Linked DNA regions of Homo sapiens. The protein of the gene in region 2 purifies or fractionates together with the protein of the main gene of each other region. This does not show direct contact. Each region holds a gene or a part of one and is shown on either strand. Other genes may lie near its edges.

Evidence for each region. Proteins that work in one complex are often made in the same cells at the same time.
Region 1: the proteins of COX5A (region 2) and SLC30A9 purify together in Homo sapiens (affinity purification with mass spectrometry; 3 studies listed by BioGRID and IntAct, with this or other methods). This does not show direct contact.

The regions. Positions count from the first base shown.
Region 1 is NC_000004.12:41,986,100-41,993,529, forward strand, and holds the start of SLC30A9 (proton-coupled zinc antiporter SLC30A9, mitochondrial), read left to right. Parts: upstream 1-4,430; 5' UTR 4,431-4,552; coding exon 4,553-4,661; intron 4,662-7,430. UniProt on the Homo sapiens protein: Mitochondrial proton-coupled zinc ion antiporter mediating the export of zinc from the mitochondria and involved in zinc homeostasis, zinc mobilization as well as mitochondrial morphology and health.
Region 2 is NC_000015.10:74,928,061-74,935,082, reverse strand, and holds part of COX5A (cytochrome c oxidase subunit 5A, mitochondrial precursor), read left to right. Parts: intron 1-5,850; coding exon 5,851-5,967; intron 5,968-7,022. UniProt on the Homo sapiens protein: Component of the cytochrome c oxidase, the last enzyme in the mitochondrial electron transport chain which drives oxidative phosphorylation.

The DNA.
Region 1 (7,430 bases), on a different chromosome or scaffold from region 2:
TATATAGCATTTTCATTTAGCACACTCCACCTAGCAACCTCCATTTAACCCAAAGCAAAGGACCTTGATCCCCTATATTGCCTGTGTTGTAAGGGATGGGCTGGGGGTTCAGACGTCCTTCATAGATAAGGAGTGAAACTCAGGGTTAGTCGCTCCTGTTTCCTTAGTTTGGGATTCTGAGCACACATTCGTTTTAGATCACAGGGTCGTTCTCAGGATATGGTTGTTACTGCTGTCAGGTGCATCCTCTCTATAGCGGGGTACTGGCTACACAGTTTTTGTTCACTAGTGATAATTGTTAGAGCTATGCCCTTAATATATGTCTTGTGTGTATTATACTTCAATAAAAAGTTAAATTTTAAAAAACCTAGTAAGACTTTCTCTTGCTGCCCCCACCTGTGGCTTTGGGGAAGGAATTGACTCTTCACAAATGCTGCCCTCTCTAAAAATATTACACCTCCATGCTCTGTCTCAGCTTAATTCTTCTCAAGGATAAAGGTTATCAAACAGTCAGTCTCTTGCCTCCAGGAGTATTTAATAACTCAATTATTCCAGCTGTAATATGAATCTTGTTCACTACCCTCTAAGGAAAAGTGTGTGTATGTGTAATTTTTTCTCCACCATACCAGGTAAATTGCAGAGAAGGAGCTTTTATTGGAGAAGCTAAGAAGTGTTGAATAAGAGAGCTATGATCCAGGAATACAGTTATCATTGGAGAAATCATTCTCCTTTTCTTGGATGGAAGTGGCAAAGAGTGAACGTAAGTTTAATGGTAGTGGACTACTAAATGGCTATTTGACAAGATAATTGTGACAAAAAAAATCCCACAAGTAATTTCATAGGATAATGTCAGAGGGAAAACCTGTAAGAACAAGCCACTCCTTCCTTCTCTCCTCCTCTGCAATGCTCACTCAACCATGTAAACTGATTTGGAGTTAGAGGACCTGAGTCTGATTCCATCTTCTGTGACATTCTTGCTAAGTGAACTGTAGAAAAAACCTTTCACCTCTCTGAAAAATGGAGACGAGGATTAGCAACCTGGTCAGACCTGGTCAGAAACCACATCAAGTGCATGTTTCATTTCTTTTGCATGTTTGCCTTTACAGGCCAAATGTGTCTGTGCAGACCCTTATTGCTTCTGACCATTGTTGTACAGGAGAGGGGGTGTGACCAGGTAATTCTTTTTACCCATGTATAAGCCAGTTTTGTTTTCTGTTTGTTTTTTTTTGGTACAGATGGGATCTTATCGTGTTGCCCAGGCTGGTCTTGAACTTCTGGCCTCTTGCCTTAACCTCCCAAAGTGCTGGCATTACAGGCATGAGCCACTAGCACCTGGCTATAAGCCATTTTCTTTCTTGCTTCTTTTTTTTTCAAGACAGAGTCTCACTTTGTTGCCCAGGTTGTAGTGCAGTGGTATAATCTCGTTTCGCTGCAACCCCCACTTTCTGGGTTCAAGTGATTCTTATTCCTCAGCCTCCCGAGTAGCTGGGATTACAGGTGTGCACCACCACTCTCAGTTAATTTTTGTATTTTTAGTAGAGAAAAAGTTTTGCCATGTTGGCCAGGCTGGGCCATTTTCTTATTGAAGTGTTCAGGTGGGCAAGCTCCCTCCTCCCCCACTCCTAGAGGCAAAGAAAAAAAAAATCGCCAAAACGTGATGACAACAAGTATGTCTGTGTTCAAAATTAAATTTGTGTTTTTGGTAAGCCTCATGATAGAGCCACTTACTTTATTTTGTAATGGATTATCTAAGTCAGTTTTCCAGATAACCAGTCAAGTTTGTCTCAAGATCAGAGTTATTTTCCCAAAGCTATAGACAGGATGAAACCAAGCAATAGTAGTTAGCTCAATTGCACAAGCAAATTTCTGAAAGATGTTGGAACTTCTTCAGAGTTAATGGAAAACCTTGCAGGAATTATGGTGTATGGTAATAATCAAATGACACTTCACTCCTTTCCTACTTCTGTTTCTATCTATCTGACTTAATAGTTCCCTATATTTAGGCATCTATTTATATCATGTATCCTCATGAAACTTGGACAATTTTATACCATGTTGATCACATGAGTAAAAAATATCTGGGGAAATTCTCTCTTAACCTACATTCCAGGAAAAAAAAAATAGGAACACCATATTATCATTCAAGTCTTTTGAGAAGACATCACATTTTCTTCCAAAGGCAAGTACCCATTGACTTAGAAAGAGTGGTGTTTAAGATCAAGATCTTTGTGCCTTGGTTTCTTCGTCTACCTATAACTTATTTAAGGTATTATGAATGAGACAGTGTACACAGAGGGCCTGGCAATTAGTAAATGATTAATATTACTACTGCTGCTATTAGTTTTAAATTATCAATATATTTATTTATAAATTTGCTGCCTCTTCCAATAGAAAATAAGCCCTATGATACTAGAATCTTACCTGTTATGTATAGGTAGGCAACGCTGAATGTGTCTCAAATGGAGCATAAAAACAAAGTCTCTTGGTAAGGATGGGATTTAGGGTCAAAGGAAATTCCCCTAAGGAACTCTAAAACTGACATTATCTTAAGTTTTAGCACTTGGGGAAGTTTCAAAGACTTTCCAAAAGGATAAGTATATCATGATATGTAGGTATAAATACCAAGACAACTGCAGAGTTATTTTAATCCAAGTCTGTTGAGGCTTTATTATGTGATACAGCATTGTGAGAGTTAAGGTAACAGAAAATGATACACTTTGTTCTTCAAACTTATTTGGCAAATCAAGGGTACTGGAGGTTTATAACAATTAGTAGTGTCTAAGTCAAGTTACACCCCAACTATACCAGGAAAAAGAAGGACAGGAAAGCACACACTGTGAAATTTTACTGTGCACCAACATATTTTACACATCAGGTGGGCTGTTATGGAAATTAAGAACTCTGCACAAAATGTATTTTTTTTAAAAGTTTTATCAAGAAAGGAACATTTTCTTCTAAAAATGATTAGTACAGCTAAACAAAATAAAAATAATAATCCTATCGCACAAATTAAAAATAAAACCTGAGAAGTTTTGATCAGGCTTGCCTAAAACGAGTTGAAACCAAAGCCATTTTAAGAATCCAAAATATGAGATTAGTTTTGTTCAAAAAGAATTATCCATAAAAGTTAATAGATGTTTGCATAGTTACCATAAAATAAGAGGTAAGCCTTTATGTATTTTTACTTCATAAAGTTGAATTTCTATTAAAATCTATTACAAGAAAGGGAAAGTAACTTTCCAGTAATATTCAGATTTTTTAGTAATATTGAGCCTACATTTATGGGACATCATTTTTTAATGTTTGTCCACTGAATATTTTAAGTTATGTTTGTCATAGGAAATTAAATTTGCTTACCATTCTTAACGATAATCTCTTTCCTCATTTGGTTATACTTATCTCAATTAGTATAAGAGACTTGTTGATTTTTTTAAAAATTAAGGACATACTAAATTTCCCCGAGATAGTTATTTTGCAGTAATATAGATAAGCGACTCAGATTAACTTTAAAACAAACCACCATACATTCCATTCAATTTATTTTTGCCAGGCATTGTTTTAGCGGCTTTATACAGCCATGTACAAAATAGACAAGATTCCAGCATCATGATGCTTATTTTCTATTCTAGGACACAAAATAGAAAAAAAAATCTCAAATAGTGATAAGCGTTTTGAAGAAAAGTATATAGGACAGCCGGGTAGAGAATGACCAGGACTACCATAGCTAGGGTGGTCAAGGAAGGCCTCTCTTGAGTTTGAGTTAAGAGCTGAATGAGCATGGCAGAGAGAAACAGTTAACGTGGATACTGTTCAGGTTTCTTTCTCCCTGGGACCAAAATGTTTCGAAGTCTGCATACCTCCGTTTACCCTAACTTGTCATGAACATAAAACCTCTTATATTGCAGGCAAAAATCTGAGGTTCACAGATTAGTAGGGCAAGTAGCTGATTCCGAAGTGTGTACTTGCCTTTATGATACTGGATACACACTGGTGTTAACAAGGAGAACGATGTACGTGGCAGACGTTCGGAGAGTACTGGACATGTTGGTTCTAATTTGGGTTTATCCTGGCAGGCTCTAGGTAGAGAGGCTCAGAAAACCTGCGTCCATCCTTCCCATCTTTCCTCCCATTTCCGAAACCACGGCCCCGGTTTCGAGTCCAGAAAAAAAGGAATAAGTAGAACTCCCAAAGGACAGCTTTCCTGGCTGAACAAGATGTAAACAGTTTACGTGATTTCCAACCAAGCGCAAAAGTACAGGTGCAAAAGAAGACGGCAGACACCAAACTTCCCCTGCAGCCACGCCCTCCCCACTTTGGGAGTCTGGGTCCCCGGGAAGGAAGGCCTCCCTATTGGTGCTCAACGTGTTACGTCACTTCCGCTACCTCCACGGCAGGCGTCGCTAAATGACGTTGCCGTTTCCGGGTCACCCAGGCAGCTTGTGGCGGCGAAGCCATCGGTGTTCGCTGATGTCCAGTCTATGGAGTCAGTTGGTACCGGTGGCGGCGCGGAGGCAGAAGGCGGTGTCCGAGTAGGGGCCTCTGCCCCACCAGGATGTTACCCGGCTTGGCCGCCGCCGCGGCCCACAGATGTAGCTGGTCCTCCCTGTGCCGGCTCCGTCTGCGATGCAGGGCGGCGGCCTGTAATCCCAGCGACCGCCAGGGTGAGTGTCCCGCGCTGGCCGCTGGCTCCGTAGAAGCCGAACTGGAGGGCCAGGCTGGGCTCGGCGCCTCGCCTGGGGCAATTCGCCCACTTGCCTTTCGCCAACCTCAGAACCTTCCTTTCTGGCCTCCGCCTTTCCAGTTCAGCCTGCGCAGCCCGCGGGGGTCCTGACAGGTCTCTGACTCTGATGCCTTCTGCAGCCCTAGCATGGCCCCCGCGGGAACTTGTGGGCACCTCGCGGGCCGGATTGCACCTCTGAAGCCTACCGCTTTGTACCAAACAAAATGTTACGTGCGCATCGCGGTGTCCCGCGGTTACTCACCTCCGCGGTTGGAAATTGCGGACTCCGCAAAGTTCCAGGGTCTTTGGAGCTTTCCAGCGCACCTTCATTTAGCACTTGGTTGAGATTTTCTTGGCCTTCTTTTTCTTACTCTCCCAACTTATTTTCTTAAATTTTCTAAAAGGAAGGAGGGGTGCTACTCACTACGGATCTTTTGGAAGAAGTACGAAAGTATCCGACAATCATTGAATGAACCCAGTTTGGGTCCGAAAAACAAAGAAACTCTTCAGTTCGGCTGAGCAGTCTTTTTGGTGAAAAGGTGGCAGTTGTAGTGGTAACCCAGAAAAAAAGGTGGTTGAAGAGAATTTTCGTCTCTCTCAACATTCTTTTCTGACTCAAATTTAAATGGTTTGAGAGTTTCCAAAATAACATTGAACTAATCAGGCTTACCTTCGTTTTTGCCGTAGCTTGACACACATTGCTTGACACTGAGAACTGATAGGATCTCTGAGGGAGAAGACAGAACTAAGTCCACCCTTAACCTAATCCCTCCATTCTTGGGATGCAGAGAGTATTTACCGAAACATTCATGTTCGAAGCCAGGTGTGGTGGTGCGCTCCTGTAGTCCAGCTACTCGGGAGACTGAGGCAGGCAGATCTTTTGAGCCCAATAGTTCTAGGCTAGCCTTGGCAACATAGTGAGCTGTCTGTAAAAACATAGGTTTGAAAAAACCTGTAACATGTTCGTGACCTCCTGAAAGAAGTCGGAAGTTGCAGTCATTCGAGATTTTATGTAATATAAGCTATAGTAACTATGCTGTGGATATAAATTAGAATATATTCGTATCTTTTATTTGCAATAAATGTAAAGCTGAATCTTAGAATTTCAAACGGATAAATTTTAACAGCACTATTCCCAGGGCTTTTTTGGTAGTGATAGAAAAGTGTAACTGTTGAGTTTTTCCATATTGGCAATATACTGCCAGGTTCCCTTATGGACAGAATGAATCATCGGCTGGGTGCAGTGGCTCATGCTGCTAATCCTCAGGAAGATTGTAAACCTTAGGACGCTGAGGTGGGTGGATCGCTTCAGCCCAGGAGTTCCAAGACCAGCCCGGGCAACATGGCAAAACTGCCTCTCTACAAAAAATTAGCCTGGTTTGGTGACGCGCGCCTGTAATCCTAGCCTGTACTCAGGAGGCTGAGGTGGGAGGATCGCTTGAGCCCAGGAAATTGAGGCTGCAGTGAGCCTTGAGCATGCCAGTGCACTCCAGCCTGGGTGACAGAGTGAGACCTGTCTCAAAAAAAAAAAAAGAAAAGAAAAAGAAAAATGAATCATACGTTTATACTGTACTCCAGAATCCCCAAGTAAGTTTCTAACACAATTGTTTCTATTGACCAAGCAATTTTGGCATTTTACACTGAAATTACAGTGGCTGTTAAATTTAGTCTAAACTGCCCTTTAAGTGTTGGCAAAAAGGAGAAGAAACAGTGTAATTTGTAATCCCTCTTCTGTGTAGCTGTCATTATGTTGAAAATTATGTATTCTTTGTCTCATCTGTCTGTGAAACACAGATAATTATTACCTACCTTAGTGGTCAAAATGACTTTGCAAAGTTGTTTGGAATGTTTATTACTACAAAAAATTAAAATTTTTTTTACACTTAAAAATGCTTAGTAGGTTTTTAAAAATAACTTTGTGAAAATTTAGTTTCAGTAATGAAGCATTTCTTAAAAGGGCAACCATTATTATGGCAAAATTTAAAAATCATTTAGAAAAAGAGTACTATTTAAATTGGATGCATGTGAGAAGACTATTTGAAGAACTTTTGGAGAAAGAAAATCTAAAAACAGTTGTTTTTATTTGTCTAGAAGTAAGGTTTAGTTTATGCTTCTAAAATGCCTGTGGCTGGGAAAAGCTTATAAAGCATAAGGAGAGGAGGAAACCTTGAGGGATTGCTTGAATACTTAAAAATGAGGAATGCCTTTAAAGGCAAAATAGAAACTGTCTAAAAGAAATATGAGAGCCCTGTTTGTAATTTTGAGTTGTCTGATAGCCACATTAAAAAAAGTAAAATTAAAGATGAATTAATTTTAATATATCCTAGAATTAATTTTAATAACGAAATTTATATATTTTAATAATAAAATATATAAAATTTAATACTATTTTATTAAGTATATTCAAAATATTTCAACATGTAATCAATATCAAAATTATTGAAGTATTTTACATCATCTTTTTGTACTGTCTTTAAAACCCAGTGAGTATTTTACACTTTCAGCACATCACAGTTCAGACTAACCACGTTTTAAGTGCTCAGTAAACAGTGACTACTCAATTAGATAGTGTAGTTAGAGTTAGTATCTAAGTTATAAAGAATTTTTACAAACCAGTATACATTCCAGTAGGAAAATGGACAAAGGAATTGAATACAAAGTTCATAAAGTTGTTCAAGTGGCCAATAAAAATGCAAAAATGTTCCATACT
Region 2 (7,022 bases):
CTGTCAGGGTTGATTATTTATTAAATGGAAAACTATCCGATTTAACTAAATTTAAACCCAAAGGATCAATGAGCCCTTTTATTTTTCTATATATGTTAGCCTTTTTTGTTTTTAAATGGAGTGCTTAACTGAATGCCAAAAAGCAGTGTTAGAAATAGCTTTTTAGGATGAAGCCCTAAAAATGTCCTCATTTTTCACAGCTGCTTCTTTTTTCTTACTTTGGGACTTTCAGGTTACGTAAAAGCTCTGAGTAATTGTTTTCCAAAATAATTTGCCTTTCAAGCTTCAATACTAGGTGGAGATCCTGTTCTTAAGTGGGGTGGGGTGTGTGGGGCAGAGAATGCTAGTAGAGTTTACCTAAAAAAAGTTAAGCATGTGGGGGATGTGTCCATAGCTAATAGAATAGATCCTGCTTTACCCATTATTGGATTTAACAATATAATTTAAATCATGGCCGGGCATGGTGGCTCACGCCTGTAATCCCAGCACTTTGGTAGGCTGAGGCGGGCGGATCACAATGTCAGGAGATCGAGACCATCCTGGCTAACGCGGTGAAACCCCGTCTCTACTAAAAATACAAAAAAATTAGCCGGGCGTGGTGGCGAGTGCCTGTAGTCCCAGCTGCTGGGAAGGCTGAGATAGGAGAATGGCGTGAACCTGGGAGGCGGAGCTTGCAGTGAGCTGAGATTGCGCCACTGCACTCCCGCCTGGGCGACAGAGTGAGACTCCATCTCAAAAAAAAAAAAAAAATTTAAATCACGTGGGGAGAGTCTGTTTTAGCCCTTCAGAAAGGGATGTATGGGTTTTTAAATTTTTATTTATTTTAATTTGTTTGATATAGAGTGTTGCTCTATCACCTAGGCTAGAGTGCAGTGGCGCAGTCATAGCTCACTGCAGCCTTGTTGCCCTGGGCTCAAGGGATCCTCCCGCCTCAGCCTCCTGAGTAGCTGGGACCACCAAACCCCGCTAATTTTTTAAGTTTTTTGTGGAGAATGGAGGTCTGTCTTTGTTGCCCAAGCTGGTCTCTCAGTCCTGGCATCAAGCGATCCTGCCTTGGCCTCTCAAAGTTCTAGTTCTGTTTTATAAAAGACTTTTTGGAATACAACCAGTTTGTAATTTGGCTTCCAGAAGACATATGATCAAATCCTTGAAGGTGGTGATCTCCTTGACTTGGATTTGCTGTTGGTGGTCATCTTATTCACAGTTAGGAAACAAAGCCTAGCACTCATGTAGTCAAATCCATGCCCAGCAGTGAACAAAACGAATTGCTTATCATGAAGCACTGTTGTGGATGGGACAGGTAATTACCTCTGGGGAAGGAGTACATAGACCTTTCATTGGGTAAATACTTAGGAGTGGAATTACTGTGTTATATGGTAGGTTTGTGTTTAACTTGATAAGAAACTGCTTAAACCGTCTTCCAAAGTGATTGTATCATTTTATACTTGCACTTTCAGTATTCAGTTAAGGCTAGCTTTAGTTTTTGAAGAGGTGGCTTATAATTTTTTCTTTTTTGAGACAGGGTCTCACTCTGTCTCCGAGGCTAGTGCCACTGCATCTGGCCCTAAGTTCTTGATAATAGTGCATTAGATGGTTGTTCTAATCTATGTTTTTACATAGATAGATAGATAGATAGATAGATAGATAGATAGATAGATAGATATTTTTTTTTTTGAGACGGAGTCTTGCTCTGTCGCCCAGGCTGGAATGCAGTGGCACGATCTTGGCTCACTGCAACCTCCCTGGGTTCAAGCTATTCTCCTCCTTCAGCATTCCAAGTAGCTGGGACTACAGGGGTGTGCCACCACGCCTGGCTAATTTTTTGTATTTTAGTAGAGACAGGGTTTCACCATGTTGGCCAGGCTGGTCTTGAACTCCTGGCCTCAAGTGATCTGCCTGCCTCAGCCTCCCAAAGTGCTGGGATTACAGGTGTGAGCCACCGCACCTGGCCTTGTTTTCTGATATATTAAATTTGAATATTAGTCTTGTAAGACTTATTAAATATCCACGTAGTTTTGATTAAATGTTCATACTTACCAGACATATTTAGGTGTAGAGATCCATTTTTTTCTTGTTGTAGAAATTAAGGCTGGGCACCGTGGCTCATGCCTGTTATCCCAGCACTTTGGGAGGCCGAGGCAGGCAGATCATGAGGTCAAGAGTTCGAGACCAGCCTGACTAACATGGTGAAACTTTGTGTCTACTAAAGATACAAAAAATTAGCCTGACATGGTGGCGCATGCCTGTAATCCCAGCTACTTGGGAGGCTAAGGCAGGAGAATCACTTGAACCCGGGAGGTGGAGGTTGCAGTGAGCCGAAATCGTGCCATTGCACTCCAGCCTGGGCGACAGGGTGAGACTCTGTCTCAAAAAAAAAAAAAAAGAAATTAAAACGTGTTCACTTCTAGTCCATTTATGTACATGTTCCACTTCATTCTGGGCTTGGATTATGTAGGTAATTTAGGTCTCTGGGAAGATCTTTTCTGCTTCGTTTTTTTGCTACTCTTCCTCCTGCCAGTTACTGCATTAAAGATATATAGGATATTACTAATGTTTAAATTTCAGTGTTCTTAGAACAACAATGTTGAGAGGTTTCTGGGTGAAGTTTTTAAAAATATATATATATGTATGTTAAGGCTGGGCATGGTGGCTCACACCTGTAATTCTAGTATTTTGGGAGTGGTAGGATTGCTTGAGGCTAGGAGTTTAAGACCACCCTGGGCAACATATCAAGACCCCCATCTCTAAAAGTAAATAAATAAAAATATGTTAAGCCTTAAACAACTGGAAGTTACACCACACTTATCTAATACAGGTAGTAGGAAATGTGATTTGAGATAGGTTTCATTTCTTTAAGTTATGATTTCTATAAATAGACAACTAAGACGTTTTTAGATAAGGGTTAGTTTATAGCTACCATTTGTTTAATACTTACCAGTGCATAGTGTTAACCTACCTGTTTTCACATTTAATCTTCATAATCTGCTAAGGGGGGTAGCGTCCCCATTTTACAGATAAGGAAAATAAACTTAAGTTAATTTTCCAGGGTCAAACAGAGAGAGCGAAGAGCCTAGAGGTATCTGAGTGCTAGGTTGTGCTGCATTCAATACCCAAAGATAAAATTTTCTGCCTCCGCCTATCCCCCTACCTGTTCCAGAGGCTGTTCAGAAGGAATTCAGATTTCCAAACTCAATTCAGTGTCCATTTGACAAGAAGAAAGAAAAAATGGGGCTGGGTGCAGTGGCTCGCGTCTGTAATCCCAGCACTTTGGGAGGCTGAGGTGGGCAGATCACTGGAGGTCAGGAGTTCGAGACCAGCCTGGGCAATGTGGTGAAATCCCGTCTCTACTCAAAATACAAAACTTAGCCAAGCTTAGTGGCGCTCGCCTGTAGTCTCAGCTACTCAGAAGGCTGAGGCAGGAGAATCACTTGAATCCAGGAGGCAGAGGTTGCAGTGAGCTGAGATTGTTCCACTGCATTTCAGCCTGGGTGACAGAGTGAGACTCGATCTCAAAAAAAAAAAAAAAAAATGGAAATGCTTTTCATACAGTACTCTATGTAAACATCATTTCTTTTTTTCTTTGAGACAGAGTCTTGCTGTGTCGCCCAGGCTGGAGTACAATGGCATCATCTCACCTCACCTCAACCTCCGCCTCCTGGGTTCGAGTGATTCTCCTGCCTCAGTCTCTCGCGTAGCTGAGATTACAGGCGCCCGTCATCACGCCCAGCTAATTTTTGTATTTTTAGTAGAGACGGAGTTTCACAATGTTGATCAGGCTGGTCACAAACTCCTGAACTCAGGTGATCCACCAGTCTCAGCCTCCCAAAGTGCTGGCATTACAGGTGTGAGCCACTGCGCCCAGCCCAAAATATTCCTAGTAAAACAGTATTATTTTGCATTAGGTGTAGATTAGAGTGTACGTTCCCTTAGGGGATTTATCAGAATATTTTGGGAAGGGGCTGTAGTTTGATAAAGCAATTTGTATGTGTAATTTGTCAGGATGTGTAATTTATTTTGGAATATAATAACATGAGAATTTTTTTTTTTTTTTTTTTTTTTTTTTTTTGAGACAGAGTCTCGCTCTGTTGCCCAGGCTGGAGTGCAGTGGCGTGATCTCTGCTCACTGCAAGCTCCGCCTCCTGGGTTCACGCCATTCTCCTGCCTCAGCCTCCCAACTAGGTGGGACCACAGGCGCCCGCCACCACACCTGGCTAATTTTTTGTATTTTTAGTAGAGACGGGGTTTCACCGTGTTAGCCAGGATGGTTTCGATATCCTGACCTGGTGATCTGCCCATCTCGGCCTCCCAAAGTGCTGGGATTACAGGCGTGAGCCACCAAGCCCGGCCCGAGATTTTTTTTTTTTTAATGTGTGAATGAAGTATATAAGTTTATTTAAGAACTTGAATGGTGCCAGGGCTGGTGGCTCACACCTGTAATCCCAGCACTTTGGGAGCCAAGGGAGGAAGGAATGCTTGAGCCCAAAGAATTTGAGGCTGCAGTGAGCTGTGATTGCGCCACTACACTCCAGCCTAGGCAACAACAGAGCGAGAGCCTGTCTCAAAAAAAAGAACTTGAATGGACATTAGTATTGCTCTTAGTTTTTTTTTTTTGTTGCTTTTTTGGTTTTTTTTGTTGTTGTTGTTTATTGTCTTTTTTTTTTTTTTTGAGGCGGAGTCTCGCTCTGTCGCCAGGCTGGAGTGCAGTGGCACAATCTTGGCTCACTGCAACCTCCGCCTCCTGGGTTCAAGCAATTCCCCTGCTTCATCCTCCCGAGTTGCTGGGACTACAGGCACGCGCCACCACACCCAGCTAATTTTTATACTTTTAGTAGAGATGGGGTTTCACCATGTTGGCCAGGATGGCCTTGATCTCTTGACCTCTTGATCCACCCGCCTCAGCCTCCCAAAGTGCTGGGATTACAGGCGTGAGCCACTGCGCCCGGCCTAGTCTTAGTTTTTTAGTTTTTGTTTTTGTTTTTGTTTTTGTTTGTTTGTTTGTTTTTTGAGTTGGAGTCTTGCTCTGTCGCCCAGGCTGGAGTGCAGTGGTGTGATCTCAGCTCACTGCAACCTCCGCCGTCCAGGTTCACGCCATTCTCCTGCCTCAGCCTCCCGAGTAGCTGGGACTACAGCCGCCCGCCACCACACCTGGCTAATTTTTTGTATTTTTAGTAGAGACGGGGTTTCACCGTGTTAGCCAGGATGGTCTTGATCTCCTGACCTCGTGATCCGCCTGCCTCGGCCTCCCAAAGTGCTGGGATTACAGGCGTGAGCCACTGCGCCTGGCCTATTCTTAGTTTTTAGAAGTGGGGTGTCGCTGTGTTGCCCAGGCTGGAATGCAATGGCTATCTTATCAGGTTCTGTCATATTGTTAGCACCCTACGACCTTGAACTCCTGGGCTCGGGTAATCTTCCTGCCTCAGCCTCTGAGTAGCTGGCACTACAGGTGTGTGCCCCACTATGCCCACCTGGGACATTTTTACTTAGGAATTAATACTCTGGTTATGTGTAAAAATTCAAACAATATGGAAGTATATAAAGTAGTTTTTACGTCCCATGATAATCACTGTTAATTTAAAATCAGAGGGAACCACTGTTAATAATTTCAAGCGAGTATTATACATTAGGGAGAAAAGTATAAACATGCCTATGTAATACTTTTTGTTCTACTTGATTTTATTTGCTTAATTTAAAATATATCTTTCTGTATCAATGTATACGATGTATTTCATTTGACCTGTTCAATATTTTTGCTGCCACAACATATATAGTCAACTCAAAATTTAATGCATTGAACAAAATATATCAAGTACTATTTGTGTACATTGAAGTTATGGTTCTTTCACATTATAGCTATCCAGTCAGTTCGCTGCTATTCCCATGGGTCACAGGAGACAGATGAGGAGTTTGATGCTCGCTGGGTAACATACTTCAACAAGCCAGATATAGATGCCTGGGAATTGCGTAAAGGTAATTGGAACATAAACATATTTGTCTATTTTGGTGTGTAAATATGAACTGCTTCTGCTCCTTTATTGAGAGCAACTGTTTCGAAAACATGCGTTGTTTAAACTGGTTACTTCATGCAACTTGCAGTTAGGAAAGTTTATGGCTACCTATAAAGCAGGATTTTAAGGCAGGCACTATTGACATTTTGGGCCAGATAATTCTTTGTTGTAGGGGACTGTCCTTTACACTGTAGGGTGTTTAGCATCACCTTTGGCCTCTACCTGCTAGGAGCCAGTATGCACACATTCGTATCATGACAACCAAAAATGTTTCTAGGCATTACCCAGTGTCTCCTGAGGGATGAAGTCACCCTTAATTGAAAACCACTGCTATAGCAATAAGGCTAGATGAGCAAAAGGTAACAGTTTTGTACATTTCAAACAATTTACATAGCACGGGCGCGGTGGCTCACGCCTGTAATCCCAGCACTTTAGGAGGCCAGGGTGGGCGGATCACGAGGTCAGGAGATCAAGACCATTCTGGCTAACATGGTGAAACCCCGTCTCTACTAAAAATACAAAAAAATTAGCCGGACGTGGTGGCGGGCGCCTGTAGTCACAGCTACTCGGGAGGCTGAGGCAGGAGAATGGCGTGAACCCGGGAGGCAGAGCTTGCAGTGAGCCGAGATCGCGCCACTGCACTCCAGCCTGGGCAACAGAGTGAGACTCTGTCTCAGAAAAAAAAAAAAGAATTTACACAAAGCAGTCATTTGGTTCCCTTCCCCTTTGGGTGATGGTTTGGGTTTTTTGTTATTTTTGCATTGTTTTGCCATGAATAAGTATCTAAGTAAGTTAGAACTTGTCTTTCCTAAATTTGCAGATGCACACTTAACATGAAAAAATAGAATTAGGTGTAGGGTAATTTATCTCATACCAAAAATTCAATCTCAATGACTATCGTATTCACTGGTATCCTTTGTTTAAATATTTTAAAGTAATAAAAGCAAGAAACCTAAGTGCTTTAAACTTCTCTGCAGAAATGTAATGATTCCCTTTTGCTACAACCAATAGAATTCT